Regions from separate parts of the Homo sapiens genome. Here all the other regions are linked to region 1. Evidence: fine-mapped QTL for protein levels in blood plasma. Region 1 holds a variant in brackets. A gene starts in each other region. All regions are shown on their reverse strands.

Evidence for each region. A credible set is the group of variants that fine-mapping cannot tell apart. PIP is the chance, under the fine-mapping model, that this variant and not a neighbour inherited with it causes the effect. Protein levels are from antibody-based Olink assays in UK Biobank. Linkage for the fine-mapping came from a reference panel and not from the study's own genotypes, which makes the PIPs less certain.
Region 2: it holds the start of TREH, and the variant in region 1 is the best candidate, but not a certain one, in a credible set for the plasma level of the TREH protein (UK Biobank, PIP 0.75).
Region 3: LRIG1 starts here. The variant in region 1 is the best candidate, but not a certain one, in a credible set for the plasma level of the LRIG1 protein (UK Biobank, PIP 0.53).

The regions. Positions count from the first base shown.
Region 1 is chr15:60,584,865-60,595,451 of GRCh38, reverse strand. All of the region lies in intron 2 of RORA (RAR related orphan receptor A), which reads left to right. All of the region lies in intron 3 of RORA-AS1 (RORA antisense RNA 1), which reads right to left. Among named protein-coding and RNA genes, the nearest start is that of RORA-AS2, 91 kb to the left of the region's middle. RefSeq lists silencers at 2,579-3,628, 3,659-3,778 and an enhancer at 10,364-10,413. The variant G/T (reference allele first, on the strand shown) is at 4,370.
Region 2 is chr11:118,673,658-118,684,244 of GRCh38, reverse strand. TREH (trehalase) reads left to right here and starts at 4,595. Exons shown (of 15, transcript NM_007180.3): 1 at 4,595-4,706. The coding sequence starts at 4,618. RefSeq lists enhancers at 4,044-4,703, 4,704-5,365.
Region 3 is chr3:66,500,502-66,511,088 of GRCh38, reverse strand. LRIG1 (leucine rich repeats and immunoglobulin like domains 1) reads left to right here and starts at 10,067. Exons shown (of 19, transcript NM_015541.3): 1 at 10,067-10,587. RefSeq lists silencers at 9,698-10,357, 10,378-10,517, 10,558-10,587 and enhancers at 9,970-10,470, 10,471-10,587.

The DNA of each region.
Region 1 (10,587 bases):
CCTCAACTTCCTGGGTTCAAGTAATTCTTATGCCTCAGCCTCGCGAGTAGTAGCTGGGATTACAGGCAAGCACCACCACGCCTGGCTAATTTTTGTATTTTTGTAGAGATGGGGTTTCACCATGTTGCCCAGGTTGGTCTTGAACTCCTGACCTCAAGTGATCCACCCGCCTTGACCTCTCAAAGTGCTGGGATTACAGGCATGAGCCACCATGCCCGGCTTTTACATGATTGTATTTTAATATACAGTGGGTAAAAGTTTGTGCTAAAATGTATCATTTATGGCTCCAATTTGGTATTATTGAAGGGAGATGTCCCTTCAATATGGGAGATGTTCCCTTTTACTCCTGACTGATTTGTTTGGTTGGGGCCTTATAATGTCATAGAAAATGTGCATTTTGAGTGGTTAAAAAAAAAAAACAGCCTATAGTTTTTACTCTCAAAGAGCTTTGTGTTAATATAAAGAACAGTAATATAACCTGGGTTAAAAGCTGAAGACATTTAATAGAGGCATGTATTACAAATAGCATCTAGCTACATTGGAAGGTTAGGACTTCATATCTGAAATTCTGTTGCTCATTAGTTGTAGGAAGTGAATGAAGTACATCTCCAAAGGGCAAGGTCAGTATTACATTATTCTGGAAATGTCTTTGTTGAATAAATGTGTAAATATTTCAGATAAGTACTTGAGATTATATTTCTATTGGGGACATATCTATAGAATGAATGATTCTACTTATAACTGCAGGAGCAGATGTCATGTTACATGTTGTTCCCAATGACTGATTTCATTTGAAATGATCTGGAAATAAATACTGATTACTAGTGATGTCAGATTATTCACCTTGGAGTCAGATGTCTCACAAGGCACGCTAGAGCTAATAGATTTGGTTCTTTTGAAAACATTGTTTTCTAAAGCAGGATACTGTTTTAAAGTAGCATTGTGAATCATCCGAGTTGTATATCTGGGTTCACTTGCATTGAGTAGGGAAGAACATACTTCCGAGGATGCAGTCTCCGATGGTTTTCCATCCTTTAACGATACAAAAGAAAGAAAATTGTACCTGGGACCTGCTTATAGGATAGCTTGGCATTAGTCGTTAGCACAAGGGAAATCAATAACCAAATGTGAATGATGGTGTCAGTGTAACTGAGGGGCGTTGCCTCATTGGGAGATATAGTTGCATCATAGGAACGTGGTGTGATTTAATTTCATAATTGTAAACATTACAGTGGGTATGGCTGATTCATTTGAAACTCTTGTCCACTTTGCTATGGCTGGACAGCTGAGTTAACATGGGTAGGTCTTGGGTTCACATTTTTATAATTTCTTTTCTTTGTAGTTTTTTTTGGGGGAAAAATCTTTAAGAAAAAAAGCTGTATTAGAATGAATTTATCTGAAATCAAACTTTTATAAAGCCATGGCTTGACTGAAGGACAACGAACTTTATTGACCTTCTAAATCAGAGCGCTGTATAAATGTTTGGAAGACTCAATTTTGCCTTGAAAGGGGGCTGGGGAGGGAGTGTATGAATCCTTGTTTTCTACGGTGCTGATTATTTGCTTGTGTTTTAAATTGTGGCCCAACTCAGGGGCAAGAGCAACTCACTTACATGGAGAAAAAAATATGCTAGAATTATCCTTGCTTAATCATCATGAATGCAACAGCTAATAGCCATCTGATATTTTAAGTTGTGCGTGGCAACAGACCAACAGAAAAGCAAGCAGAATGAAATTTCGTGAAGGAACCGCAATAGGTACGCAAACTTGGCTTTTCAGAATTTTTTTCTGTTATGCTCGGTACTATAGACACCCTGACCAAAGTTTTAAACAATGCAGACTCTGGGTATGTAGCATCTGAAATTCATTGTAAAGAGATTGACCTGTAAAATAATAACGTCATGATTTACAGTTCCGTAAGGACAGTAAGAAGAATTAAGCTTCAAAGTTTAGAGGGAATTAAGTCTTAGTCGCATGTTAAAATGTACAAAGTTCACCTTCAGAGGTCTTTATTTTCTGTCAGAATTACCACAGTGTTTCATTTTTAGGGTATGAAAACGATAGCTTTTCCTACTTGTAGATGGGTTCTCTGGAGAGATATGGAAGAGCCTGGGAATTTAGCGGCTCAAATCAGCTGGCAACTGGAGTTCATTTAGGTGATTCACATACAATTTCCGGCTTTCCTTGCAGGTATCAGTGGTCTTGGACGCGGGGAAGGGGGTTGGGGGGGACAGGTGTAGACCAGGACCTTGGTTATTGGTATAACTGCCAATATCCAAGGGTTGCCAAGGGTTGGGTGGGCGGAGTTCCCCCGCCCAGGCCGAGTCTCTCCAGAAAGACTTCGGAGGAGCTTACTCCACTCCCCGGACGGTCCCAGTGGCTTCGTTCTCCACGGCCCAGAAGTGGGCCGTACCTTCCGATTAGAGCTGGGGCACTCTAGGAAATGCGGGTGACCGTAGCTCCCCAGACCAAACCTGTCTTTTCCACCAACGAGCTGGCGCATTTATCGCCCCCGAGTGCTCCGGCAAGCCAGCGGGAGAGTGGCGTCGGGTTGCGAGCCTCTTGCCCCACCGAGTGGGGGCAGAAAGTGGTCAGAGGCGCGTTCCGCGGGGCGCTGCGTGCAGAAAAGCGACCGGCGGCCACAGGTGATCCCGAAGGCGAGGGGAAGGCGGGCGCCCGGGCGAGGGCCCGGGGCGCGGGAGGGCAGGCCCGGCCGGGGTGGGCCAGCAGAGCCGCCGCTGCTACTCACCTGCCCGCGGGGGCGGGGCGGGGCGCGGCGCTGGGGCGCGCCTGCCTCCCGCCTCCCGCCTCCCGCCTCCCGCCCCGGGAGGAAGCGGAGGGGCGCGGTGTAAACAGAGCGGCGGCCGTGATGTCAGCCGGTCACATGGAGCCTCTTATGGCTCGGGATGGCTCTCGGCGGGCGGGCAGCTGCGGCAGCTGCTGCTGTGGCTCGGGCGGCGGCGGCGCGGCGGCGGCAGAGGGGGCTCCGGGGTCGGACCATCCGCTCTCCCTGCGCTCTCCGCACCGCGGCTTAAATGATGTATTTTGTGATCGCAGCGATGAAAGGTGAGCCCGGGCGCCCCGCCGGGGCCGGGTGGGCTGGCGGCTCCGGGGGGCGGGGAGGAGGGCGCGCAGGGGGAGGGGTGGGCGCGCCTGCCCGAACGCACGTACTGCCCGGGGCTCGGCGCGGGGGCCCTGCCAGGGCCTTCTGGGCCACCGCCGCGGCGCCACCTGAGCCCGGCCACGGGATCGGCCTGCCTCCGATTGGGGGGCAAAGGCGCACGGGGTGGATCCCCCTCTGCTGCCCCCTCCGGCTCCTGTCAGTCTCTTGGGTCCGCTTGGCACCGGGCGGGTCTCCCAAAAGAAAGTTTGCCGGGAGTCGCCGCGCTTCGGAAAGGAAGGGGAGGGTCTGCGGAGTTCAGAGGAAGCCGGGGACGCCCGCGGCCGGTCCCCAGGGCCCGCACCCGGGACAGCTCCGGCCTAGGTCGGGGAGGCGCCGCGGCCGGGCAGGGCCGTGCGTGCGCGTTGTCGCGATGTCATCCCCGGGGACTGGTCAGCGCCCCAGGCCTTGCGCCCTGCCCCTGCGTCCCCGAGCGCCTCAGCGGCCGCCGGCCGGGCAAGTGCCGCAGGTCCGCGCTGTGTCCCGCGCTGTGTCCCGCCGCGGCCACTTCCGAAAGCGCGCGGGCCGGAGCGAGACGGGCGCCTCGAGCGTGCCAAGACGCTCTGGGCGGCCCAGGGAGCCGCGGCGCACCCCGCTTGACACTTTGGCTGGTGGATGGAGGTGGGGAGGAACTCGGCAGCCCACGGGATCCGCGGGCAGGGGCGGAGGTTAGACCGTGGTGAGGGCCGACGGGCGCGGGTTAGTCGCGGCCAATCCTGCCGGGCGGCCCGGCCTTCCGCCCTCATCAGGACTCCGTAGCCGGGCCGGGGGCGGGAGGGGAGGGGGATTTGGTTGGAGGGAGGACTGGCTCTAGGTCCTCTCAGGTGAGAAGGAGAGAAACCGTGGCAAGTCAGGGAACTTTCTGATGGGAAAGCTAAAGTTTGGAGGTGTTCAGGAAGTCGCCCGTGCTGCCGGAGAAACCGAGACTCGCTCTTGGGACGGTTGCAAACAGCTCCGGAGAAACTCAGCCCGCAGCACGCCGCCCGCCGCCCGCCGCCCGCTTGTGCGCCCGCAGGTTCCTCGCCGTGGATAATCTGCCCGAGCTGCTTCGCAGGCCCGGCCGCCAGGCTTGGGGATTTAGAGCCCCATCTGTTTGCGGCGGACGCGGCTTCCCTAATGCGCAGCAATTGTGCAGACCCAGACTGTCCTGCGGGTCCTAGCCACCGGTGCGGGTGCCAAGCGCCTGTTAAACGTTTGCTAGTTTGGGGTT[G/T]TGTTGCAATCTGGAATGAAGGACACCAGTTCGGTATCTGCGCTGGGTTTACTTTCGGATCACCGAGCTTTGCCTTTCTTCACTAGAGATTGGGTGGCATCTCTTTTATTAATTATTAACAGGCCGAAACGTACTGGACGTTAAGATGAGCTGCTTGAGATGAAATCTTTCTATATAATGTGCCCACAGCAAATTTTCTCTTTTCCCCTGTGGCTTGAGGGGAATGGGATTTAATCATTTTTAGAATATGTAATTCATATAAGTAAAAGAGAGGAAACCTCCCGTGATCCGCGCTCTTAAGCACTTAAAATTATTTGGGAGGAAAAATTATTAAGATTTCTTATCGACTTCTTATGTTAAAAAATCTATTCTCCCCCACCCCCCCAAAAAACTTTTATGCTAGTCCTGCATTTCATTAGCCCTGTAAGTGTGAAACGTCTTAAATGCCCTCTGCAGTTAAAGCATTTTTTGTCTTTAAATTATAAAATTGATTTTGCTATTTGGAAGATGTCAATGCCAGTCTTTATCCACTTTGTCTAATATACTTTGTGTTGATTGGAGGAAAGGCGAGAGGCTGAGACATTTTAAACTGCTTTCTCCCCTAATGAACAGTAACGACCCACCAAAAAAAAGGAAAGTACGTTTTAATATTTTGATTTAAAGTTGATGTTTCCTAGTACATAGGCTTTTGCTTTTGTAATTCTACAAAGTGAAGTTCCATACTGTCCCTTGCTAATAGAATAATAAGAATCACACACGCTACCCCCACACTTGGAGTGACCTCTGTCTGCCATAAAATAATAGTTTCATAGTATTGTGCTTTGAAAAAAGTGCCTCAGAAGTACTGGCAATGCAATTTTTCTATAAACTCAGCTGCCTGAAAGAGAGAGAGAGAGAGAGAGAGAGATAGAGGAAGAGGGAGAGAGAATGCATCTGAACAATTAGAATATTTCACTCCCAATATCATAATATCCTGAATTTTAATGGGATTATCTTGCTTTGGTGCAAACTTAAGCTGAAAGAGAAAATAGTTTGTGGGGAAGTGAGGAATGCTGTAAATGTTTCCATATCAGATTTAGAGGAAAAAACTGGCTTAGAATCTTATTAAATACTTCCCTATTGCTTCTCAGTTTTAATAGTTAAATTGGTTCCATGTGTAAGACAGTTTGTATAACTAGATTTTTCGTGCAAAACAGAAATACTGTTTACAATATAGCTTTTTGGTATGTGGATGCATGTGGACAAGGGAGGAGAGAACAAGCCACCATAAAAGAAAGATTCTCTTTGTTGGCTGATTTACTGATGTTTTTTAAACATCAGTAAATCAGGCCCTTTGAACTCACCAAAGAAGAAAATCCTTCCTCTGCATTAGTTGTCAAATAAGTTTAGGCTTAGTTTCATGCTCAAATGTAATAAATCTTCATTTGAGTAACTCTAGTCTCATCCTTCAATTTTGCTTTTGTTTAATTAACAACAAAATTCCAATACCATTTGGATTGCTTCTTGGGCAAAGGGAGAGAGCCAGCTATAACATTTATAATCGGGGGAGCACTTGTTCTGCTCATCATAAAAGTGCATTGGCCAGATGTCACGCGGCAGCGGAGTACTGAAAGGAAATGTAAGACGTTCATCAGTTTCAGTAGATGATATACCCCTTTGCTTCATATGAGTGCTCAGCCTGTGTTTGTGCAAATGGAGTTATAAGAGCACAGGGAGGCTTAAAGGGAATTTCTGGCCCGTAGATTCTTCGTCCGGCCTGATTCATGTGCAAATGCAAGACTCCTCACCACTTTGAAAATACTGTATGTGTTGGTAGTATGTCCAACTGTAATAAATACGATTCTGTAGTTTTGAAGAACTTGGCCTTTCTTTCTACGAAATGAAATTAGAATTCGATCTCTGATCTCACTGTAAGGACCCATTGCCTGGTATCCCTTCACTGGGATTTTTGTACCATTTTTGTTACTTGTGATGGGAAGGATTGGGAGAAGGTGATGGCTGGATCTTGAAAAGAGAAAACCCAAATGGTTGCCACTACTGAGCAGAATGCTTATCTGGCAAGAAGGGATCAGTTCTTTTAAAGACAAAGAGGATTTCTGAATCCATTTGTCCATGGGAGGAGGGAGAAGCCTGGACCCTCCATGAAGTAGAGAGTATTTTAAAAGCACCATTTTCATGGGCAGCCTCTTGATTTTATATATTTCAATCACGTTACTTGAGATACAAAGCAGCAGCATGCACAAGTAAACCCTTTTGCCCACGATTTGAATTGAGAACCATATAATTTATTTAATGCTGCCCAGTCATGAAATAATGTAATTTCTAAACAGAAATAGTCATTTAGAAATATACAGTATGTCATCTAAACCTTAGCTCTTTAATATGTAGTAGATACACTTGTAAATATATTAATAATTCTCATTAGTCTCCTTTTTCTCCTATCTTTCCCTCCCACTCAAGTGAGACACAATAAAAGTGGATGAGATCAGCAAGGTGATAATTGCAAAGCACCTACAATAGCACCCAACCACTTTCTTATTTGCTCTGGGGTATCTAGGAAAATAATATTTATAAATGGCCACTTACTGGAGAAAAGTTACTGGATGGATGGATGGATGGATGGATGGATGGATGAATAGATTTGCAGAGGTAGATGTAGGGTTCAGTTTTCTTAAAAATCTCTTAAATTATTATAGGGATCAACAAAACCCCTTATGTGGAACAAATTTCCTAAGAATACTCTGTCATGGAAATGTTTTCTGCATTCATTTTTACTATTTACAGCACTTATTAGTAAGAAATCAAGGCTGCCTTTATGTATTTCATATTTAATAATTTTAAAGCCATAATTAGACACTCAGAGTCAGCAGCTACACCACTTTTATGTTTCTCTACTTAAAAAACAGTTTTTTTGGAGCCATCCACCAGTGACAAGTCAGGTGTGAATTGACATTTGATAGTATCTCAAAGACCACATACAGACCCTCTGAGGAATGATTTACAAGTTCTGTCTCCCCCATCTAGCTATTCTACTGAAGATAACTCCCTTCCATCCCAACCTTTTGATTCATGAACTGAGAGAGTCGTAGTCAGAGCTTTTTCTATCCGTCAGTATTTTGTGTGACATGATAGAACATGATTTTTCTGTTAATTGTCAAGAGATAGGAGGTCTAAATAGATGGATAATAGCATATACTATCCAATGGGCAAAATGCAAGGAAGCAGCTGAAATCTTTTGTTTCTGGATTTTCTTTTTGGAATGAAATTTGTTAGCCCTCATCATATTTTCAGGAGATAATACGATAACTTTAAAAATCTTTGCTCCTGTGGGTATAAAAAATAATGTCAAGATTATTCCCTAGGTTTTCCAGTTATTTCATTTTTTAAAATGTTACTGCTTCTGAAGTTTACTAGGCATTTCATAAACAAATAGGGAGATGATGCTAATCTATATTTATTTTGTGCTTTATGGTTTACAAACACTCTTACATCATTTAATCCTCCATAGAGAGTCACTGATAGTCCCATCAGTGACTGATGAAGAAACTGAGGCTCACAGAGGTTGCGTTATAGCCTAGCTTTTCCATCTGATAACGTGAAACAAGAACTACAACCCTAATTTCTATCTTCATGCCTCCCCTGGAGGAAGCTGTGAAAAACGTCCTGGATATAACTTTGTCTCTAGTTAGTGGAAATTATAACTCTGGCATTTATATGGGAAAAAAATAGATCCAATTATGTAATGCTTTGCTGAGCCTAATATCTTTAAATTACTATTTAATAAAATCAGTTTGGTACAAATGGGGTTATTCTTATTTGCTTATCATTAGCTCTCTTCAACCATGATTTTCATTAAGTCTGCTTGTTTTAAGAGGATATGAGTGAAATATAAGCATTATTTTCCCCAAGAATACAGAATACCATGAAGTACAGCTAACCTGTGTAACCAATCGCCATTATGATAGAATTGAGAGATATATCTATATGTTCCACTTATCCTTAGGCAAAGGGAACATTCACAAATGCATCTTCTAATTTTAATATGACTTTGTGTAGTATAAAGCTTACGAATTCTCGTGCTTGTGAGTGCTGTCGTGTTTGTTTTCATGACAGCTTAGGGGCATGATTGTAGATCTATTCTTGAGAAATCGTTTGTCTTTTAGAAAATCACGTGAAGTCTAAAAGTTTTCAAGTAGATCTGAAAAATCTCATTTCTCACTTAGTGGGGAATGGCCTTAATGACTGCTGGATTAAGGTGTGTTTGTCTGAAAGCAAATAAGGATTATTTCAGTCTCAGACGAAACCTTTAAAGTCACTCAGATGAATGTCTCACTGGGATTTGGACCCTGCCCACAATATTTCTGCCAAGTAGTTATCTGGTTATGCTGGAACACCTCCAACGATGGGGAACTCACTATCTTTAAAGGTAGGTTACTCCATCTTGAATTAGAAAAGTCTTTTTATATCAAGCATAACTCTCTCCTTTGTACTTTTAATCCCTTAATTCTGATCCTTTCCTTTGGGGCTGTGCAGAACACATTTAATCCATCTTTCAAATGAAAGACTGTAAGTCATTTGAAGACTAGTACTGTAACACACACATGCACACGCACACACACACACACACCCCTCTAATACGTAATATCTGCTGTCCCTCTCCAGTCCTTTTTGCTGTAAGTGTGGTTCTGCCTTCCCACAATCTTGGTCAGTTTCTTCCTCAAACACACTTCAGTTTGCCTAGAACCACTTGAAATTTTAATGCCAAAGATGGACCCCAAGTGCCAGTTGTGATATAATTGACTTGGCACTTAACCCAGCACATAGTAAAGAGGCAGCCATGACTTAAAGATGAAAAACTTTTGTTTTAAAATTTTAAAGATAACATCAGCTAGCTGTATCTCTAGCACCTCTCACCACCAGTCTTTGTGATATCATTGTTTGTGAAAGTGGACTTTTGAACTGTTTAGGAATACTTTTAGTTCCATTTGAAGTTGATTATTAAGTATCCAGGAAAATCAAAGATACTACAAAAATAATTAAAGGAACATTAGAAGCATTTCAGGTATTTTTCTGCCGCATGTCAGATATGAGATAAGGCTGCCCTCTAGTGGTTACTTGCACATGGACGGCTAAACCCATAATGGTGCCAGTGAATTTCCCATCAGGCTAGTGGGAAGGTCAAAGGTTGTAGTTATTTTCTTAATTGGAATGAGACATTTCTATTCCAGATTCAAAAGTTTAACTCGTTGTTCTTCATGGTTATCAGAAATGTAACTGTGGAAGGGATACTGAATTTTAAAAGTTTGCTTGGCAGGAAGTAAAGGAAAAAAAATTTTTAACTTAAAGCTGATTTATTTGCTGTTTGGCTCAATATTAAATTTAAGTGAAATTTGGTTTGTGAGTCAACAATTGTTATGACATTTTTAGTAATCCTCGTATTTTTTTAAGTTTCAAACTCCATTCTAATTCCCAACCCTTGAATATCTTTTAAAAAGAGGTCGTCATTTGATGAGCTAAATTCAGCGTTTCCCCTTTTTAAATCTAGAGCTTTTCTTTTTCAAAAATGATAAACATTTAGTAAAAAAGTAAACTACAGTAGCTTTTGGGGGGTAATAAAACAATTTTAAACATGGATGAAAAAAACTATTAACCCCTTGGTTTCTGAAGATTTATGGTTAGATCATTTGGTTCACTTAAGTATATACAGTTTGCCTAAAAAATAAGATAGAGGATATGTCAGAAACTCTGCATGAGGTAGCGACAAGCATTCATTTGCATATTTTTTAGGATAAATAGATAATACAAGTGGATTGTGGATTTGGATTTTGGTGTTATAACAAGTGTGAAACAATGGTAAAACAATCTGATTTCTGTGTCGGAATCTGAGGAATGAATATAGATCTTCCTATTTGCTTAAATGTTATTTGTTCCTGGTGCTACACAGAGGTATAAGAATGCACGTTTATATGAATTTTGCATTGCTGAAGAAGTCAAAGCTGATCTGAGCTAGAATAACCAGGGTAATAATAATGACAAATAATCACCAGGCTTGTAAAGGATAATAGTGCTTACGTGTTCCTATTAGAAAGATGAAATTGCAGCGTTTCATGAAAAAGAAGAAAAAAAATAAAAAGCAAGGAAAAACTGCTGTTTAAACCTTTCTATCATAGAAATAAGGCAGTGGTTCAGAAGTGAAGACTTGTGGTTAAGTTTCAGAT
Region 2 (10,587 bases), not on the chromosome of region 1:
TTTACTTTTCTTATCCTTAGTTAATCTAACAGATAATGGTTTGTTCAAAATAAAACAGGGCATTTATCCAAAATGCTTGATACCAGGAGAATTTTGGATTTTGGATTTTTTTTTTTTGAATTTTGAAATATTTGCAATATACTTACTGGTTCAAAATCCCAAATCTGATCATCCAAAATCTGAAATGCTTCAGTGAGCATTTCCTTTGATCATTATGTCTGTACTCAACAAGTTTTGGATTTTGGAGCATTTCAGATTTTGGGTTATCAGATTTGGGGTGCTCAATCTGTAATAGCAACTGTGTATTCAACGATTCTAGTTTATGGATAAGGGAACTGAATGACAGCAATGATAGAAGGGACAGGAGGGAGAAGTTAAGACTACTTTGTTATCATAAGGTACTTGCACTACCATGAAATGTAGTGTTATTTGAGTAGACTTGGTTAGTTGTAAACATATAATACTAAAAAAAGAACTGCTGGAGGCCGGGCGTGGTGGCTCATGCCGGTAATCCCAGAACTTTGGGAGGCTGAGGTGGGTGGATCATGAGGTCAGGAGTTCAAGAACAGCCTGGCCAATATGGTGAAACCCCATCTCTACTAAAAATACAAAAATTAGCCGGGTGTGGTGGTGGGCGCCTGTAGTCCCAGTTACTCAGGAGGCTGAGGCAGGAGAATCACTCGAATCCAGGAGGCGGAGGTTGCAGTGAGCCAAGATCATGCCATTGCACTCCAGCCTGGGTGATAGAGCAAGACTTCGTCTCAAAAAAAAAAAAAAAAAACACTACTGGCTGGGCATGGTGGCTCATACCTGTAATCCTAGCACTTTGAGAGGCCAAGGTGGGAGGATTGCTTGAGCCCAGGAGTTTGAGACCAGCCTGCGCAATATAATGAGGTGTTCCCCCAGAACAAAGCCAGTCTGCATAATGGGCAGAAGATCTGAATCACTATAAACCTTGCTTAAAAGAAGACATACAAGTCGCAAACAGGTATATGAAAAGGTGCGCTACATAACTGATCATCAGAGACATGCAAATCAGAACTACAATGAGATATTATCTCACTACGGTTAAAATGGCTTTTATCCAAAAGACAGGCAATAACAAATGCTGGTGAGGATGTGGAGAAAAGGAACCCTCATATACTGTTGGTGAGAATGTAAGTTAGTACAATCACTGTAGAGTCATGTGTTTTTTTAAAGAACATTGGCTGGGCACGTTGGCTCATGCCTGTAATCCTAGCACTTTGGGAGGCCAAGGCGGGTGGATCACCTGAGGCCAGGAGTTCGAGACCAGCCTGGCTAACACGGTGAAAACCCATCTCTACTAAAAATACAAAAAGTAGCTGGGTGTGGTGGTGGGCGCCTGTAATCCCAGCTATTCACGAGGCTGAGGCAGGAGAATCGCTTAAACCTAGGAGGCAGAGGTTGCAGTGAGCCAAGATCATGCCACTGCACTCCAGCCTGGGCAACACAGCGAGACTCCATCTCAAAAAAAAAAAAAAAGATGTTTAATTTTATGTGTCAACATGGCTAGGCAAAGGTATCCAGATAGTTGGTCAAGCATTATTCTAGATGTTTCTGTGAAGATATTTTTTAGATGAAAATAACATTTAAATTTGTAGACTTTGAGTAAAGCAGGTTACCCTCCCTAACTTGGATGGGCCTTATCCAATCAGTTGAAGACTTTAATTTGAAAAAGACTGACCTCCCCAGAAGAAGAAGGAATTCTCTCAGCATGCTGCCTTCAGACTTGAACTGCAGCTTCTTCCCTGTTTCTCCAGCCTGCCAGCCTACCCTAGAGATTTTGGACTTGCCAGCTACCTCTCAAACTCTCTCTCTCTACCCCCATCCCCCATATATGTATTGTTTCTGCCTAATACGGTCCAGGACCAGATGGCTTCATTGGTAAATTCTACCAAACATTTAAAGAATTAACAATCCTTCTCAAACACTTCCACAAATAGAAGAGGGGCATATTTCCTAACTCATGCTATGAGGCTAACATTACCCTGATATTAAAACCAGATAAAGACATCACAAGAGGGCTGGGCATGGTGGCTCACACTTGGGGAGAAACACTTTGGGAGGCCAAGGCGGGAGGATCACTTGAGGCCAGGAGTTCAAGACCAGCCTGGGCGACACAGTCAGATGTAGTCTCTACAAAAAAATTTAAAAATTACCCAGGCGTGGTGGCATGCACCTGTAGTCCTGGCTACTCAGAAGGTTGAGGCCAGATGACCACTTGAGCCCCAGGAAGTCGAGGTTGTGGTGAGCTGTGTTCATGCCACTGTATTCCAGCCTGCTGGGTGATGGAGCAAGACTATGTGTCCAAAAAAAAAAAAAAACAAAACAAAACAAGGAAAGAAAATTACAGTCAAATATGCTCTATACATATTGATGCAAAATTCCTCAAAAAAATACTCGCAAGCCAAAACCAACAGTTTATTAAAAGGATTAGACATCATGACCAAGTGAGATTTATCCAAAGAATGCAAGGGTGGTTGCACAGCATTGTGAATGTAATAAAAGGAAATTGAATTGTACACTTAAAAATTGTTGACCAGGCATGGTGGCTCACACCTGTAATCCCAATACATTGGGAGGATGAGGCAGGAGGATTGCTTGAGCTCAGGAGTTCCACACCAGCCTGGACAACATAGGGAGACCCAATCTCTAAAAAAAAAAAAATTATTTTTAATTTAAAAATTAGTTGGGCGTGGTGGCATGTGCCTGTGGTCCCAGCTGCTCAGGAGGCTGAGGTGGGAGAATCCCTTAAACCTGAGAGATCAAGGCTGCAGTGAGCTGTGATGGAGCCACTGCATGCCAGCCTGGGCAACAGAGCGAGACCCTGTCTCAAAAAACAAAGCAAACAAAAAAAACAATGCCAGCTGCCCACATTACTGGGTGGAGCTATCTGAACCTTTACTAGTTCAGAGTGGTGCCTGATTCATGAGTCATTTCTTTGCTTGAATAAATGGTTAAATTTAATTTGTCTAAGGTTTTTCTTTTTAATAGCAGTAAACACTGCTCAGGTGCCACAACTGACATCCTTAACTGCAAACCTAAGTCCTTCAGGAGAGGTCATGCCTATCATTAAACTCCATGTGCCTTGCCCACCCCCTGTCCCCTGTCCCTTCAGCTCACCTTCCATATGTTGAGGGGATGAGCCTCCTAAAGTAACCGAATCTGCTTTTTTTTTTTTTTTTTTTTTTTTGAGACAGAGACTTACTCTGTCGCCCAGGCTGGAGTGCAGTGGCATGATCTCGGCTCACTACAACCTCTGTCTCCCGAGTTCAAGCGATTCTCCCACCTCAGCCTCCTGAGGAGCTGGGATTACAGGTACCCGCCATCATGCCCAGCTAATTTTTGTATTTTTGTAGAGACGGGGTTTCACCATGTTGGCCAGGCTGGTCTTGAACTCCTGACCTCAGGTGATCCACCCGCCTCGGCCTCCCAAAGTGGTGGGATTACAGGCATGAGCCACTGCACCCAGCCTGAATCTGCTTCTTAAGCTCACAAACTTCTCTGCTGGTTCCACTTTGGGGAATTACAAGGAATTACATTCCTTGGCTTGGCAAAGACCATTTCCAGACTGGTGCCAACATGTTCCTCCAGTCTATCTCAAAACCCTTCCCTGCATGAACACCAAGTTCTCTGCAGCTAGGCTGAGGGGTTTGCTCTTCTCTTCACATGCTCTGCATACATTGTAGTGGTCTCCAGCCCATTTCCCTTGGCAAACTCCTATGCGGTCATCAAGACTCATTAGGACTGGCGCAGTGGCTCACGCCTGTAATCCCAGCACTTTGGGAGGCCAAGGCGAGCAGATCATGAGGTCAAGAGATTGAGACCATCCTGGCCAACACAGTGAAACCCCGTCTCTACTAAAAATACAAAAATTAGCTGGGCGTGGTGGCGGGCACCTGTAGTCCCAGCTATTCAGGATGCTGAGGCAGGAGAATTGCTTGAACCCGGGAGGCGGAGGTGGCAGTGAGCTGAGATCACGCCACTGCACTCCAGCCTAGCGACAGAGTGAGACTCAGTCTCAAAAAAAAAAAAAAAAAGACTCATTACAAATGACACACTATTGTGGGTCTCCCTTAGTCCTCCCCAGACAGAATGGTTCTACTGTCCTGTGCTTCCGCTGTATCTCTTGCAGATAACAGTGAGAGGCCCTGAATTTCACACCACACCAGGGACAGGATCTTGAGCCATTCCATTTGAAATGTTAAGGGAAATGGTAACTCTCTGAGGTTGGTGGTCTTGGGGCCACCCAAGGAACCTGGCATCCAGGTTACAGGTGTGTGGCCTCGACTGTGTCCCTGGCCTTTGGGTGCCCACTCCCCACCCCCACCACCATGCTCTGAGGGAAGGGCCTGAGCCATTGGCACCAGCTGAGACTGTGAAATAGAAGAGGCAAAGTAGAAGCAAGGGAGGTGGCCACTGTGCCCTGAGAGCAGGAGGGGCAAGCGGGCCACACACAGACCAAGCACACGTCCCCTCAGGTGGCCACGCCTCAAAGGCTGGACTTTGGCCGACTTGGACAGGCAGGTGAGCCAGGCTGTGCCCAGCAAGCCGAAGGTGCCTGGGCTTGCTCATTCAGTCACAGTCACAGCCACCATGCCAGGGAGGACCTGGGAGCTGTGCCTGCTACTGCTGCTGGGGCTGGGACTGGGGTCCCAGGAGGCCCTACCCCCACCCTGTGAGAGGTAGGGGTGTGGGGAAGGCAGCAGGGGAGGATGGCAATAAGAGGGAGGCTGGGATGAGATCTCAAGCTCTGGGGTCGGTACTTCAGAGGGAAAGGAAGAGATTATAAAGGAAGGAAAGAGTAGGGAAGAGAAGAAAATGAGAATTCCTATGTAGCAGGCTCTGTGCTGGGCACTGCACCTGCAGTCCGTTTTTTTTGTTGTTGTTGTTAGAGTCTTGCTCGGTCGTCCAGATGGAGTACAGTGGCACCATCTCCACTCACTGCAGCCTAGACCTCCCGGGTTCGAGAGATTCTCGTGCCTCAGCCTCCTGAGTAGCTGGAATCACAGGCATGCACCACCACGCCCAGCCTGTCATTGATTTTTACCAAAATTTTCCACCGTTGGAAGGGACATTAGGCTTGGCGACTGTGCTGGGAATACAAGCGTGAGCCACCGCCCCCTGTCGGGACCTGCAGTCCTGATACCAGACGCAGCTGCCAGAGCCTGGCCTGAGGTCCAAGAGCCTGCTGGCCAGAGCCCGCCCTCCCTTCCTCTCCTCCTCCAAGCTGCCCCTTGAACTGTGCAGGCCTCTTCTCAGGATTGTTCTAGCAAACTTTCTGCTCCAGCTTCCTAGTCTGGGTGTGAGAGGCAGCCTAAGGGCCTGAAGACAGCACTTGGGCTTGAGCCCTGACCCTCATATTCTCTCTGTGACCCAGGGCAGGTCAAGGCTCTTTCCTGAGCCTGAGTTTCCATCACCAGGGACAGAGATGAGTGACCCTGTCCTGTCTCCTGGACTCAGGCGATGTCCACCCTTCGTTCCACATGGATTTATGGAGCTGTGGCCACATCAGCCACTTTACCAGCTCCTGCAAGAACAATAATAATAGAAGAAAAACAGCTGGGCACGGTGGCTCATGCCTGTAATCCCAGCACTTTGGGAGGCCAAGGTGGGAGCTATCATCTGAGGTCAGGAGTTCGAGACCAGCCTGGCCAACATGGTGAAACCCCATCTCTATGAAAAATACAAAATTAGCCGGGCATGGTGGCGCACGCCTGTAATCCCAGCTACTCGGGAGGCTGAGGCAGGAGAGTCGCTTGAACTTGGGATGTGGAGGTTGCAGTGAGCCAAGATCATGCCATTGCACTCCAGTCGGGGCAACAAGAGCAAAACTCTATCTCAAATAATAATAATAATAATAATAGAAGCAAAACAGTAACAGAAGCACAGTTTGAAGTAGAGAGAAGTTAGGGCCCGCTGGTGTGGGTGAGCAGAGGGTGTGTTAGAGAGGATGGGGAGGGACGGTGTCTCTGAGGAGGTGATGTGTAAGCAGAATTGTGGCAGGAACCATTGCTGAGCTGATCTGGGAGAGGACAGTCCAGGCATGGAAAGGGCCATGCAGAGGCCCTGACGCACTGTTCAGGGATTGGGACGAAGGCCTGTGTGATTGGGGCAGAGTGGGAACAGGTCCGGGGAGAGCGGGGCTCCAGGCAACAAGGTTTGGGCTTGGGTTCCAGTGGTTAGACTAGAGACAGAGACAAGGGGTTCAATAGAGGGTGTGTGTTACAGGGAGAGTTGACAGTGCTTGCCCATGACAATTGTGGAATATAAAGGGGAAAAGTGTACCTGGGATAATTAATAGGTTTTGTCCTGAGCAATTGTAATGAGGACTTCAGAGAGGCTGGGTGGTCCAGTGCTTTGTCAAGCATTAGGCTGTTTGCCAAATGTAGGGGAAGATGACTTTACTGGTGTTCCCTAAGACCAACCTCAGGCCAGTGATTCACTAACACTTCCAAATGGTTATACCATGATTATGGTTTCATTTTTTTTCTTTTTTTGAGACAGAGTCTCGCTCTGTCGCCAGGTTGGAGTGCAGTGGTGCAATCTCGGCTCGCTGCAACCTCCACCTTCTGGGTTCAAGCGATTCTCCTGCCTCAGCCTCCCCAGTAGCTGGGACTACAGGCACCTGCCACCACGCCCAGCTAATTTTTGTATTTTTAGTAGAGACAGAGGTGTTGCCATGTTGGCAAGAATGGTCTCAATCTCTTGTCCTTGTGATCCGCCTGCCTCAGCCTCCCAAAGTGCTGGGATTACAGGCATGAACCACCGTGCCCAGCCTTGATTATGGTTTCTTACAGTGAAAAGATACATGTTAAAGCCATCAAAGGTGAAATATTCTAGGGCCAAGTCCAGGAGAAAATAATCTCAATCTTCCAGTTTTTCCTCTCCCAGTGGATTTATATGGACAGGACTTGATTTTTCCAGCAATAACATGTGACAGCACGCATGAAGTATTGCCAATCACAAAAGCTCACCTGAGTCTTGGTGTCCAGTGTTTTTATTGGAGGTCAGTGATGAAAGCGTGGACTACCTGTGTGGCTGACCTCAGTTACTCACTCTCCAGAGTTCAAACTGATACTGGGCGGCCAAAGGCCCCTGCCACAAATCACATTATTAGCATCAAATATCTGGCATGGCCCAAGGCCCCAGAAAAACAAAGACTTATCAGGCAGCATATTTTGGTAATTTAAATCTCATCTCTCAGGGCTGGTCACAGGCCAGAATTTTCTCTGAAATGTGCAGGGTTTGAACACAGCAGACCTGCTGAGTCAATCCTTTCATGTATAAGCCACTTCTTGTATAATGAGGAATTAGTTTCATTTTTGTCTTGGGTTCCTCCAAAGTAACCTCTAAGCTCCTTGGAATCTCCCAAGTGATAGGAATGTCTGTTATTAATAGTGGTCCCTGATTAGTGTTTTTTTGTTGTTGTTTTTTTCTTTCTTTTTTTTTTTGAGACAGCAATCTAGCTCTGTTGCCCAGGCTGGCAGTGCAGTGGTGAGCATTTTGGCTCAATGCAACCTCTGCCCCCAGGGTTCAAGTGATTCTCCTGCCTCAGCCTCCCAAGTAGCTGGGACTATAGGCACGCACCACCACGCCTGGCTAATTTTTGTATTTTTAGTAGAGACGGGGTTTCACCATGTTGGCCAGCTGGTCTTAAACTCCTGACCTCAAGCAATCCACCCACCTTGGCCTCCCAAAGTGCTGGGATTACAGGCATGAGTCACTGCACCTGGCCTGATTGCTTTTTGAGACAGGGTCTCACTCTGTCACCCAGGCTGGAGTGCAGTGGTGCAGTCATGGCTCACTGCAGCCTCAATCTCTCTGGGCTTAGGTGATCCTCCCACCTTGGCCTCCTGAATAGCTAGGACTAGGTGTGTGCCACCATGCCTGGCTAATTTTTGTATTTTTTGTAGAGATGGGGTTTTGCCATGTTTCCCAGGCTCTTGGTAGCTTTTGTTAATGAGGTGACTTATGGTGGGTCCCTAGACAGCTTCTGCTAACAAGACGACTCCACATGAAGGCAGGCCGTGCCAGAAAGGCCAAGCATGTGTGTAGAGGGTTGGGGTTTTGGTCCACATGATATCAGCCCAACTTCTCAACCTTCAGGGAGGAGAAGGGGCTGGAGATGGAGTTCAATTACATGATCAATGATTCAATCAATCATGCGTATGTCATGAAACCCCAATAAAAACTCTGGACTTCAAAGTCCTGGTAAGTAGGCTGGGCACAGTGGCTCATGCCTGTAATCCCAACACTTTGGGAGGCCGAGGTGGATGGATCACTTGAGGCCAGGCATTTGAGAGCAGCCTGGCCAACATGGTGAAACCCTGTCTCTACCAAAAATGCCAAAAATTAGCAGGGTGTGGTGGTGCATGCCTGTAATCCCAGCTATTGAGGAGGCTAAGACGTGAGAATCATTGACCTGGGAGGTGGAGGTTGCAGTGAGTTGAGATTGCACCACTGCACTCCAGCCTAGGTGACAGAGTGAGACCCTGTCTCAACAAACAAACAAATAAAACAAATAAATACCAAGTCCTGGTTGGTGAACACATTGATGAGCCAGGAGGGGAAACGTCCTGGTTCCATGGGGAAAGGACACAGAAGCTCTACATTCAGGGCCCCCCTAGACCTTGCCCCATGCACCCCTTCATTTGGCTGATCCTGGCTTGTATTCTTATAATAAAACTATAGCCCTAAGCATAACCGTAAGCTTTTCTGAGTCCTGTGAGTTGTTCTAGCAAATTATCAAATCTGAAAGGGTTATGGGAACCCCTACATTTGTAGCCACTTGGTAATAAGTGCAGGTGGCCTGGGGACCCCTGAACTTGTGGCTGGTGTCAGAAGTGAGGCCGTCTCACTCAGGACCGTGCCCTTAACCTGAGTGTGGATTCTGCACTAACTCCCGATGGTTAGTGCCAGGATTAAATTGCAGTATTGCAGTTGGTGTCAGAAAATGTGGATTTACTAGAATGACCCTGACTCACTGAAACATATGGGTTGGGAAAAGAAAAGTTGAAAGGGCAGGGGATGAGAAACCTTTCATTCTCGAGTGGATACAGGGTCACCCATGGTGTGAAGAGCAGTCATGCTGCAATCAGTTACTGGAGGTAAAAGTTACCAATGGAAATTAGAGGTGATTGATCACTAACTTTTGGGGAGTTGACTCATGTGCATAGGGAAATGTATACTAAGAAGAAGAAAAGCAAATATACAATCCCTATAGACTTTTATCTCTAATAGCCAAACTGAAAGTAAAAGATGGGCCATGCTTAGATTCTGGTCAGTGGAATTACAACCTCCAGTCCTGCACTGTGGTACCAAAAACACCTGCTGAAGTCCTGATGGGCACTGCAATGAGATTGAGAGAATATAAAAATGCAGCCAGGTGCAGTGGCTCACGCCTGTAATCCCAGCACTTTGGGAGGCAGAGGTGGGTGGATCATCTGAGATCAGGAGTTCAAGACCAGCCTGACCAACATGGAGAAACCCTGTCTCTACTAAAAATACAAAATTAGCCGGGTGTGGTGGTGCGCACCTGTAATCCCATCTACTCAGGAGGCTGAGGCAGGAGAATCACTTGAACCCAGGAGGTGGAGGTTGCAGTGAGCTGAGATCTCGCCATTGCACTCCAGCTTGGGCAACAAGAGCGAAACTCCATCTCAAAAACAAAACAAAACAAAACAAAAAAGTGGTATGCGCTTGAACAGGTTTTATGTGGAGTGGTTGCATCTCTTCTACCTGAATGTATTACAGGGATGGATATTGTATCTGACCAGGAAATATTTCCACTACCTAGTATTGTAAAACAGAAGGTATGGAAATCCACTCATCAAGCAATATTGATTAGACATTCCAAATGGGAACCAATAAGATTGCCCAAGTCCACAGAGATTGTTAGCCTTCTCTGGAGCATAGACTGGACTTTATAGCAAAAGTCTTAGAGCACCTCCTGGCACGAGTGCTGAGACTTTGGACTAGATAATTTCCATGTGAGAGGTAATTATTAGCTTGCTATCAGACATTATTTGAAATTGCCCCTATGACTGAAGGATGTAAGATAATCTTGAAACCTGAAATACCTATAATATCTTGGGGAAATGCTCACAGAGAGTGGGCAGGGCCCAGAAGAGTTCCATAATGAAATGGAAATGGCTGGATCAGGAACAAGCTCCTGGGGGAATGCAGTTACTCAGTGTATTCAAAAGCAGAGAGACTCTTTTCCCCTAGGACTGACTTTGGACCCACTCAAAGAGTTGTTAGATTCTATTGCCAATTGGACAGTGCCCTATTGACAGCTCTCGATTGACCAACAAAGCTGTTTGGCTTATGGATGGCAGTCCCAAGGTGAATGAACAGCCTATTGTTTGGAAGGTTGTTACTCTGATCAAAGAAGGCAAAAACAAATCAGCTCTGTGGGTTGAATTGCATACTGTTTAGGTTTTTACTAACTCTTGGACAGTGGCCAATGGCCTGGCCATATGGTCAGGCGGAAGGACAATGGGAACCTTGTCTATATGGAAATCACAACAGGAATTTTAGGAGTGCATTAAAGCAGGTTATGTT
Region 3 (10,587 bases), not on the chromosome of region 1:
ATCTTCCAAAAGCATTTCCCACAGTGAACTATCCCTCCTACTTAGCTTCCAGAACACCATGTTCTACTGGGGGGCATGGGAGAGGTGGTGAATCATGGGAGAGAAACATTTAGGAGACCCTGGGACACATTTGGATTGACTGTATTGAATGCAGGTGGAGTCAAACTCTGTGTAGAAGCCACACTCTTGTAAAACAGATATGTTGACTGAGAAGTAATAGGTCTCTCATTCATGTGTTGGCTAGAGGAACTTAGTGGCTGAGGAGTGAAGGAGTGGATATAGCAAGAGGAGTCAGCCCTGAGTTGAGTACTATTCCCCATTTCATAAGTTTTTGACCTTGGCCAGGTTACCTATGCTTTCCAAGCTTCAGTTTTCTTATTTATAAACAGCCGACGGAAATGCCTACTACAGAGGCTTGCTGTAAAGGATAAATGAATGAGTGTTAGAGAAAGGCTGGGATCATAGTTGCAAACTCAAATGCCTGGTGGGGTGGGCAGGCAGGAAATATAAATTAAGACAGCAGATGCCTACCTCCTAAAGGCAGGTCAAATTCAAATTTTTAAAAATAAACACTTCAGGCCAAATTAATCCCCTTGAAGCCCAAGTTTGGCCAGCGTTTTTACCTGGATGATGGCTGAAACATGGTAGATGTTGGTTAATATTAGATTCCCTTTGAGCTAGAAATCTACCTCAATCAGTCCTTCAGTCAACCTAGAGGTTTCATGTCTACTGCATTCATTCCGCATATCTGTCCTGAGCCTTTCTCATGCCAGGTGCTGTGAGAGACCCTGAGGGGTAGAGTGGAGGTCCCTGGCCTCAGGCTCCAGCCCTACTATTAGAAAGAGTCAGATACAAAATGGGCTGACAAAATCTAAAAATAACTGGAAACTGTGAAAGGTGTTATGAATACAAATAAAAGAATGAGGTTTAAAACAAATTTTGAGAAGGAGCTGGGAATCTACTATAATAAAGTATACGAGAGTGCTGGTTTAAAGTGTGAGTTCTGGGCCAGGTGCAGTGGCTTATGCCTGTAATTCCAGCACTTTGGGAGGCTGAGGCTGGAAGATCGCATGAGCTCAGGAGTTCGAGACCAGCCTGGCTAACATGGAGAAACCATGTTGCTACTAAAAATACAAAAACTTAGCTGGGCATGGTGGCACACACCTGTAGTCCAGCTACTCGGGAGGCTGAGATGGGAGGATTGCTTGAGCCTGGGAGGTGGAGTTTGCAGTGGGCTGACATTGCACCACTGCACTCCAACCTGGGATACAGAGCAAGACCCTGTCTCAATAATAATAACAATAATAATAATAAAGTGTGAGCTCTGGAGTCTAATTTCCTAGCTGTGTGATCTTCAGCAGATTACTTCCTTCTGCACCTCAGTGTTCTATTTTATAGAAAGAAAAGATTTTAATAGTTCTGCCTCATAGGGCTGTAGGGAGGATCAAATGAGTTGATGCATTTGAACCACTCAAGTTATTCCCTGGTGCATACTGTAGTAGGTTCTCATATAGCTTAGCTATACGGCATGCAAAAGGTTCTAAGTGTGCATTTAGAAACTAGAATTACAATTAGGGTGGCCAATTTGTCCTGATTTTTCCAGAACTTTCCTATTTTAGCACTTGAAGTCCCATGACCTGGGAAACCCCTGAGTTCCAAACCTGGGTGGTTGGTCACTAGAAGTTTCTGACCTGGCAGATCTGATGATCCGGCAGGCTTCACCCTGACCTACTGCACTCAAAGACACGAAATCCCTTTGTCTTCCAATAGTCTGTGGCTCTGGGGCCTGCTTCCTGTGAGCTGCTTATAGCCTTGACTGGAAAATGAGGTTTGCATACAGAAAACCGTTCATTCATTTGATCATGTATTCGTTCAGTAATATGTATTGAATGCCTGCTATTTGTCAGGCACTGTTCTAGATCCTGGGGACCTAGCAGTCAACAATACCATCAGATTATAAACTCTCTGATGGCAGGGACTTAGCTAACTTGATTTTGTAAGCAGCACTGCTTAACAGTGATGGCTTCTAAGAAATGAGAGCTGGAGAAGAGTGCAAGACAATATATAAGGAGGCAGTAAGCTATGCTTTGCAGAACTTAAAGGTTAGCACACAGCTAAGAGATATAATCCCCACCACTGTCACCCGCTACCAAAGCATACCCCCAAACTCTGTATCTCAGTGTCAGTTTTATGGCTAGGATTCCATTTTAAAATATTCATTTATTTGTCCCATATGAAAAATGGAGTAAACACGTTAAGCCTTATCTGATCTTTTCGGGAAGAATAGATCTTCAATTATTTCATCCTCTCAATCAGTTATTTTACCTGGATGCCATGGGGTTACATAAGAGAACATACCTTTTATAAATAAGCAGATCCTCTGCATTTCTCTCATACCTGTTTCTAAGAGAAGTGGAAGGGAACCTGTTTTGTGGCCTGCTGAAGAACCAGAATATTTATTATCTAAGAAGTTTTGTTCGATGGCATCAGCCAGTTAGCCTGTTGCGTTCAATCAAGGGCCCTGACAAACACGTCAGGAAGGTCAGCTGATAACACTAATTTTTTTGACACTCCTGATGACGGGTTTATTTGATTAGATTTTATTCCTCCCCCAAAATCCACTCACGTTTTATTGCATGCTCACTTAGCCACACTTGTTATCTCAGTTATCTATGGCTGCATAACAAGTCACCCCAAAATTTAGTGGCTTAAAACAAGAGCTTTTTTTATTGGTCATGATTTTGCGGGTCAGGAATTTGGGAAAGACCCTTGGGGATGGCTTAGCCCTGCTCATGTGATGTTGGCGAGGCTCATTTGTGCAGTTGCATTTAGCTGGTCTGTGCTAAAAGGTCCAAAATGAGTTCACTCTCATGTCTGGGGTTATGATGCTGGCTGTTGGCTGGGCCACCCAGTTTTCTTGCACGTTGCCTCTCTCTCTCCATGGTCTCTTCTCCTCCAGGGCCTCTATTTCTAGGAGGGCAGCCTGGACTTCCTTACATGACAGCTCCAGGTAGGAAGTGGGTGAGAGACAAAGCTGCCAGGCCCAGAACTGGTAAGAGCGTCACTCTCACTGCATTCTATCAGTCAGAGCGAGGCACAAGGCCAATCCAGATTTAAGAGGGAGAGAAAATAGACTTTGCCTCTTGAGGGGAGAAACTGCTAGTGGCCGTCGGCAGACAATTATTCTATACAGCTGCCTTCTCCAAATAGTAACCAGTCAAGGCACTTCAAATAAGAAAGAGTTGCGGAAAAGACAAAGACTTTTCTTTGATTTATAGCATCTAAATCCAAGAGGAGTGTCAAGCTCCCCCAGGGAAATAAGGATATTTAAATGATTATCTAAAGAATGTAGCTCATGGATAAGAATGACAGTGAAAAGCATATAATATGTGTCTGTCTGTAGGTTTATAATAAATTTGAAATGTGTCATAAACCCAACTGTCCTTTTGGAAACAAATATAACAGGCTATAAAATTTGCAAATGCTTTTTATTAGTCTGAATGCATGGTGAAGGAAAAGAGAATTGAATGGCACGAGAGGATTTTACCAAAATCTCATGGGCAGCAGATGTTTTGCATGCGCTTCAATTTAGGTGCAATAATGTCAGCCACATGCTTGTCTTTATTTTTGAAATTACTTTTTTTTTTTTTTTTTGAGACAGAATCTCACTTTGTCACCAAGGCTGGAGTGTAATAGTGTGATCTCAGCTCACTGCTACCTCTGCCTCCCTGGTTCAAGCGATTCTCCTGCCTCAGCCTCCCGAGTAGATGGGACTACAGGCGCATGCCACCATGCCCGGCTAATTTTTGTATTTTTAGTACAGACAGGGTTTCACCATGTTGGCCAAGCTGGTCTCGAACTCCTGACCTCAGGTGATCCGCCCACCTTGGCCTCCCAAAATGCTGGGATTACAGGCATGAGCCACTGTGCCCAGCCTTAAGGTTCACATTTCTGAGAAGCTCCAGGTAATATTGATGTGGTCAGCACACATATGTGAATAGCAAGCATGTATAAAATAAAATGGGGGAGGAAAGAGGCTTGATAATTCTCCCTCCTTGCAGGGCAGGCAGGACTCACTCAGCAAATATTGTCTCTGTGCCTACCATGTGCCTGGAATTGTGTTAGACAACAGGAATACCAAGAAGGGATTTAGACTCAGTCTTTTAACTTACTTTTAACTTACTGAGCTACTAGACTGGAGGAAGAGATAAACAGGAAAAATAATCAAAAGTGAGAATGATAAGAGAGGGAGTGTGATTGGGGTAGGTTAGCTGTGAGCCTCTTCCTGCTCAGCACCTAATTAGGGTATAATGTGGGCAAGGGGATTGATTTCAGAGTTTCAGTAACTTCATATGTAAGATGACAATCTCTAAGGTATCTCATAGAATTCTTCAGTGAAATTAAGCCATGATGTGAAATAATGCCTAGCACATAGTAAGTGATCAGTAATGTTAACCACTGTTGTTATACAAGTACTGCTGGGTATGGGGGGAGAGAAAAGTCTAGATATTTATCCTTTAAAATTTTAACTTATTAATCATAGAGGGAACTTTGAAAATCTATTAGTAAATATGAAAAAGTAAAGAAATCACATCCATTCTCATGGCATCCCTGAGAAAGAAGCTCCATGATACACTTCGTAAGACATTCACTGAATATAAAATATGTGTGCTGGTGGTTGTGATGAAACTTGTGATTTAAGATTCTATTTATTCCTGATGCCGCGTGACCTTGGGACAATCACTGAACCTCAGCTTTCTCATCTGTAAAGTGGGAACAATAACAATTTTCATATTCAAAGTTTAGGAGGCTCAAATGTCAAAATAGATCTTTGGGGTTTTTTGTTTCTTTGTTTTTGAGACAGGGTCTTGCTCTGTCACCCAGGCTGGAATGCAGTGGCTCGATCTCGGCTCACCGCAACCTCTGCCTCCTGGGCTCAGGTGATCCTCCTGCCTCAGACTCCTGAGTAGCTGGGACTACAGGCATGCACCACCATGCCCAGCTAATATTTTTCTTTTTAGTAGAGAAGGGATTTCACCATGTTGGTCAGGCTTGTCTCGAACTCCTGACTTCAAGTGATCCACCCATCTTGGCCTTTCAAAGTGCTGGGATTACAGGAATTGAGCCACCGTGCCCAGCCCAAAATAGATCTTTGGTGTCCACAGAACTGGTTTGGAATCTTGGCCCTGTCACTTATTAGCTTGTGTGGCCTTAAACGTTTTTCTTAGCTCCTACCTCACTGAAAAAAGTACATAAAGCACTCAACAACATGAAAGACATATAAAAAGTGCTCCGTAAATGATAGCTGTTGTTATGATGTGACAGTGCTTTGAAAAATGTAAGGTATATGACTTCATAAGATTATTATTATGTTATGATCAATGTGCTGTTCTTTATATACATTGCAGTGTTAGTTCTGAGTGGTTGGCAGTGAGGCATAAACTTTGAATCCTCCCTGCACTCGCCCTCATGTACTTCTCGGAGTGACATTTGCAAAGGCAGCAGATTGGGAGTGAGAGGTGCGGTCTCTGGTGATGATGTAATTAGTCCATCCCATCATCATCACCGTCAGAGGTAAGGGACTGCCTCCTACAATGACCATTACTCCAGAATCTCAATCTCAGAATTATGAAATGCTCATACCTTTGACATATTTTTTTTCATCCTTTCAGTGAACCAGTAAACATTTCACATTCACAAGGCAAGGACAAGTGTCAAGGTTCTAGTTTGTGTTAGAAAGTGGACTCTAAAGGTTTTTGGCCCCTGTCGATGGTGCTCTGTGGAGGAGGGCAGATCCTGTGAAGGGTCACAGCTGAGCTGCAGGCAACAACCATTCTTGCTGTGGAACTGCAGCAGCTGCAGCTTGGCACTGTCTGGGCATTAACCAATATTCCAATAGCCAGAGATTGCACAAGAAAACTACCTCCACCAAAGGCAAATGTTGGAATGGGGGATGGGGAGATCTCAAAATCTTTCTCTTTTTATATTCTATTCCCAGACTCATTAGCCTCCTCTCTTACCTTCTCCACCCATCCATCTCCTTGACAAGATTATTGCGACGAAGGAGTTAATGAGTACACAGTTTTATTTTCCTTGGAAGAGAGATAGAAAACAGGCTCAAAGCAGGGCTGTCATCACCCTGCAAGTCTTCAGGGGTTTCATAGCTAATTATTAACCCTTTGTCACATTCCTGGACAAGAAACTTTCCTGCTGAAACAACCTGCTAAGATTTTCCATCTACATTATACATATGGGCTCTCAGTTTTTCAGAGTTAACAAATCAATAACACCTTGAAAACAATGAGATGTAAACAGTTTATAATGCCCCTTTGGTCCTTTATCAAAATGATCCTTCTTTACTCACTCAGCACCCAGGTCAAGTACCATTATCCTTGTTTTCTATTTTTCTTTTATATATATATTTTTTTTGAGATGGAGTTTTGCTCTTGTCACCCAGGCTGGAGTGCAATGGTGCGATCTCGACTCACTGCAACCTCCGCCTCCCGGGTTCAAGCGATTCTCCTGCCTTAGCCTCCCAAGTAGCTGGGACTATAGGTGTGTGCCACCATACCCGGCTAATTTTTGTATTTTTAGTAGAGATGAGGTTTCACCATGTTGGCCAGGCTGGTCTTGAACTCCTGATCTCAGGTGATCCCCCCACCTCGGCCTCCCAAAGTGCTGGGATCACAGGCGTGAGCCACCGTGCCCAGCCCCTTGTTTTCTATTTGAGAAAACTGAGGCTCCAAGACAGAAAATGACTGGTCAAAGGTTTCACCCATAACAAGGCCTGGCTGGAACCCAGCTCTCCTGAATGGTGACCTGGTGCTTTTTTAATGTATTGAACACAGTGTAAAATCTCACCTAACATTAAGAAAGCCCCTCTGAATCTCAGCATTCTTTAAAACCACTAAAGACCACCACCTAGAACTATAGCAAACTGGCACAAATTCAGTCCCCAGGAAGTTGTGTTAAAAAAAAAAATTCCTATGGTTAACCTTCTTTCTTGTTATTTTGTTATTTGCTTCTCTCCCCAATAGATTTCAGGCTATTTAGATTTTGGGTTCCTCTCTCAAGCATGATTAACTTAGGATGATTAACTGCTAGGGCTTCTGGAGTCAAGAGAGACCTGCAGAGATTCTCACTGGGGTTTGATTCCATGCTATCCCTGGGGTAGATGAAAATGAACTGGAAAATCTAAAATCCCCGGATGACTCATTTAAGGAATAAGCATTTAGAAAGATCAAAGTTGCAGTGTGAGGAAAATAAGGACCTACAGCACCCAAATCAACTGTTGCTCTGTGCTGAATGGACCAAGACTTGCACTTTTATGAGCAGAGACATAGATTCCCTTAGACATTTGCTGTTGTTGTTGTTGAGATCTCCTTCATCTTAGGTGGTGGCTGCAGATGAATTCCCCCCTGAGCTGGATATCACTGCTCTCCAAGTTCACACTCTCATTGCAATCACAAGCAGGTTGCTAGTATGTGGGCAAACTTCCATACATGGTATGGGGAGCAGACATGACTTCATGCTTTGCTGTAGACGAGAGGAACTGCCAAGGCTTAGGCGCCCTGTCCCCCCAAGTGTGCCCCGGCTTTGGAATCCTTTTCTCTGGCTGCATGGTAACCAGACCACAAGGGATGCTTTAGATTTGTGGGCACTCCCTCACCTTGCAGATTCTTAAATTCTATCCTCCAGAAAACTAAGATTCCAAAAAGGCATCTCACAAGTACACCCATACACATTTGAAAAAACATTTTACAAGAATTACCCACTTTTATAGTACTAGAAATGAGACAAACCTGAAAGATAATTTTAGGTCAGCATCTCAAGTAGTTCAATCAGTTCAATTCATTTTTTGCTGCATATGCTGTTTTATTGTGGGGTGGGGACAGGGAGGATCTGACAGTTTCATTTCAGGAAACGGCTGTGGGTATTCTGCATCAAATTACTGTTTTGTGTTCTTTGTGTAAAACTTAAACACTGACTGAGAGGACTTCATAAATTTAGGGTCTTTTTAATTCCATTCCCACTGCTTATTATTATTATATTTACCAAAAGGGATAGAACAAAAGGACATATTTCTTCTCGTCCAGATGGAAGGTGTATGTTTATTTGGATTACATATGAAACATAAAAGCTGGTTAAAGCTCTGGGTGGGATGGGTCAGGTGCAGCATTTTTCTGATAATATTTCTTGGGAATTAGATTTGAATTGATTTACCCACATATTTGAGCACTGCTTTGGGCATCACTGCTGAGATCATGCAAAATTAAACAAGAAAAAAATGAGGCGCAATGAATTCAGAAGGGGAAGAAGGAAAAAGGGGAGGAAGGGATAGGAAGATCACATTTTGGCTAAAGAAAAGAGGTGATCTTATGGCTGAGGGAAAGTTTAACACATTTAGTGCATCTCAATTAAAGCAAACCTCTTAGATTGTGTCGAAAATGGAATAAACCCTTTAATTTTTTTTTTTTTTTTGCCTTTTTTCCCTAAGGTTCAACTTCTCCTCTTTACCTCCCACCCCACCCCACTTCCATAAAACACAACTCAGATTTAATGTTCTGGAGCAAATGTTTTTCAACAGACTTGACCTGCTTAATCTTCCTGACAATGTGCGCAGTTATGTTAGTAATTTGCATACTCTTGGGAAGGGATATGAGACACTAGCAAACCAAAACGCCCAGAGGGCAGCTATATGTTACAGTGGTAATCTTTTTCTTTTTTTCTCAATGTGTGTATGTCTGCTTAATGTTACCACGTACTATCGTAACACACTACTACTATGGTCTGATCTTTAAGAGCAAAAGTTAGAAGCTTTGTTAACTATTATTTCTCCTTTAACTCTGTCTCTTACGAATACACAATGGCTTCTTGAAAATTATCTTAAAAAGACTCTGATTAAAACAAAAACCCAATGACAACAACAAAGCAACCCCTTTATCAAAGGCTGCAGCATTTCTAGAAGTACCCTTCAACTCACTAGCTGGGAAGGAGAGTGCACTTTTTTTTTTTTTTGAGACGGAGTTTCGCTCTGTCACCCAGGCTGGAATTCAGTGACAATTCAGTGACAAGTCTCTGCTCATTGCAGCCTCCGCCTCCGGGGTTCAAGCAGCTCTCCTGTCCCAGCCTCCCGTAGCTGGTATTACAGGTGTGCACCACCACACCTGGCTAATTTTTTTATTTTTCATTTTTAGTACAGACGGGGTTTTACCATGTTGGCCAGGCTGGTCTCGAATTCCTGACCTCAGGTGATCCGCCCGCCTTGGCCTGCCAAACTGCTGGGATTACAGGCGTGAGCCACCACTCCTGGCCGAGGGTGCACCTTTGAGACTAGGTTTCTGCAGCACACATTCATTTTAGTAATCAAGGACATATTGCTGGATTTAGGACGTGAAGAACAAGTCAGGAGCAGATGCTCCAGGCTGCTCGAGGAGGAAGGGGACCACGCCTAATGAAATAACCAAGGATGTCCCAGTCAGGAAGAAATGTGTTAAGTTTTAAACCTGTGTCTTCGCTTTTGGAAGGAACCTGGAAAACGGACGCGGGTTTGCTTCTAATCTGCAGTCCTGCTTGCAGCCTGAGGAGGACGTAAAAAGCCTTGGGGCCAGACAGCCCCAAAACGGGGGCGTTTTACCCTCTTAACTTTCTCTCCCCTTCTTGACGCAGAGGGCGTATCTTCACGCCTCCTTTCCCCAGCCCGCGTTCCCGTTCTCCAACAACAACCTGCGTGTCTCCTTTAAGAGGCGGGGGCCGTCCCTCCCTTTCTCCTCCCAGTCTCCCGCCCTTCACACCTTGGGTGGGAAAAGAGTGTGGGGGCGGGGTAGCCGGTGAAGCGGGAGGGGCGGGATCACAGCGAGCGCTCCAATGGCCCTCGAGGCTGGCCACGGTGGACTCCGGCAGCCAATGAGCAGCAGGCGGGGAGGCGTGGCGGGGCGCTGTTGCAAAGCATCCAACGTGGGCCAGCAGGCGGCCGCGGAGCGCGGAGCCTAGGGGGTGTGTGCGGGCGAGCGGCCGGGGGCGGGGCTTGGGGGACCGGCCGGGGCTGGGCCGCGGGGAGGCGAACAGCAAGCGGCTGATTGTTCGGCTGCGAGGTCGGCGGGACTCTTGCTGCGCGGAGGAGCCGTGCGGAACCCGAGGCTGCGCGCGCGCGCGCGCTCTCTGGCCGCGGCGTGGGGACAGCGAGGCGCACTGGGGCCTCCCAGCGCGGGGCCGGCCGCGCCGTCCAGCCCGAGGTCTACGGCTTTGCGCTCCGAGCCCAGAGGAAGATGCCTGCCGGCACCGAGCTCGGGCTGCGGGGCTGAACGCCTGTCTTCCAGGCGCAGCGGCAGCACTGCCCTCGGCCGGTGTCGGTAGCGGCACTCGGCGTGCCCCGGGCGGACGAAGAGCGCAGGCTGGGTACACCTTGCCCGAATCGGCGGAGTTCGCAGCTAGCGCGGGCGGGCCGGCCGGCCCGGATGGGCGCGGGGTTTGCGGCCCCCGCCGGGTGCTCCGGAGCGGCCCGGGCACCGGGGGCACGCTGAGTGCCGGAGCCGCGGCCGCAGAGAGAACTTGGGGCGGGGGCCATGCCCCGGTGCGGAGTCTAGA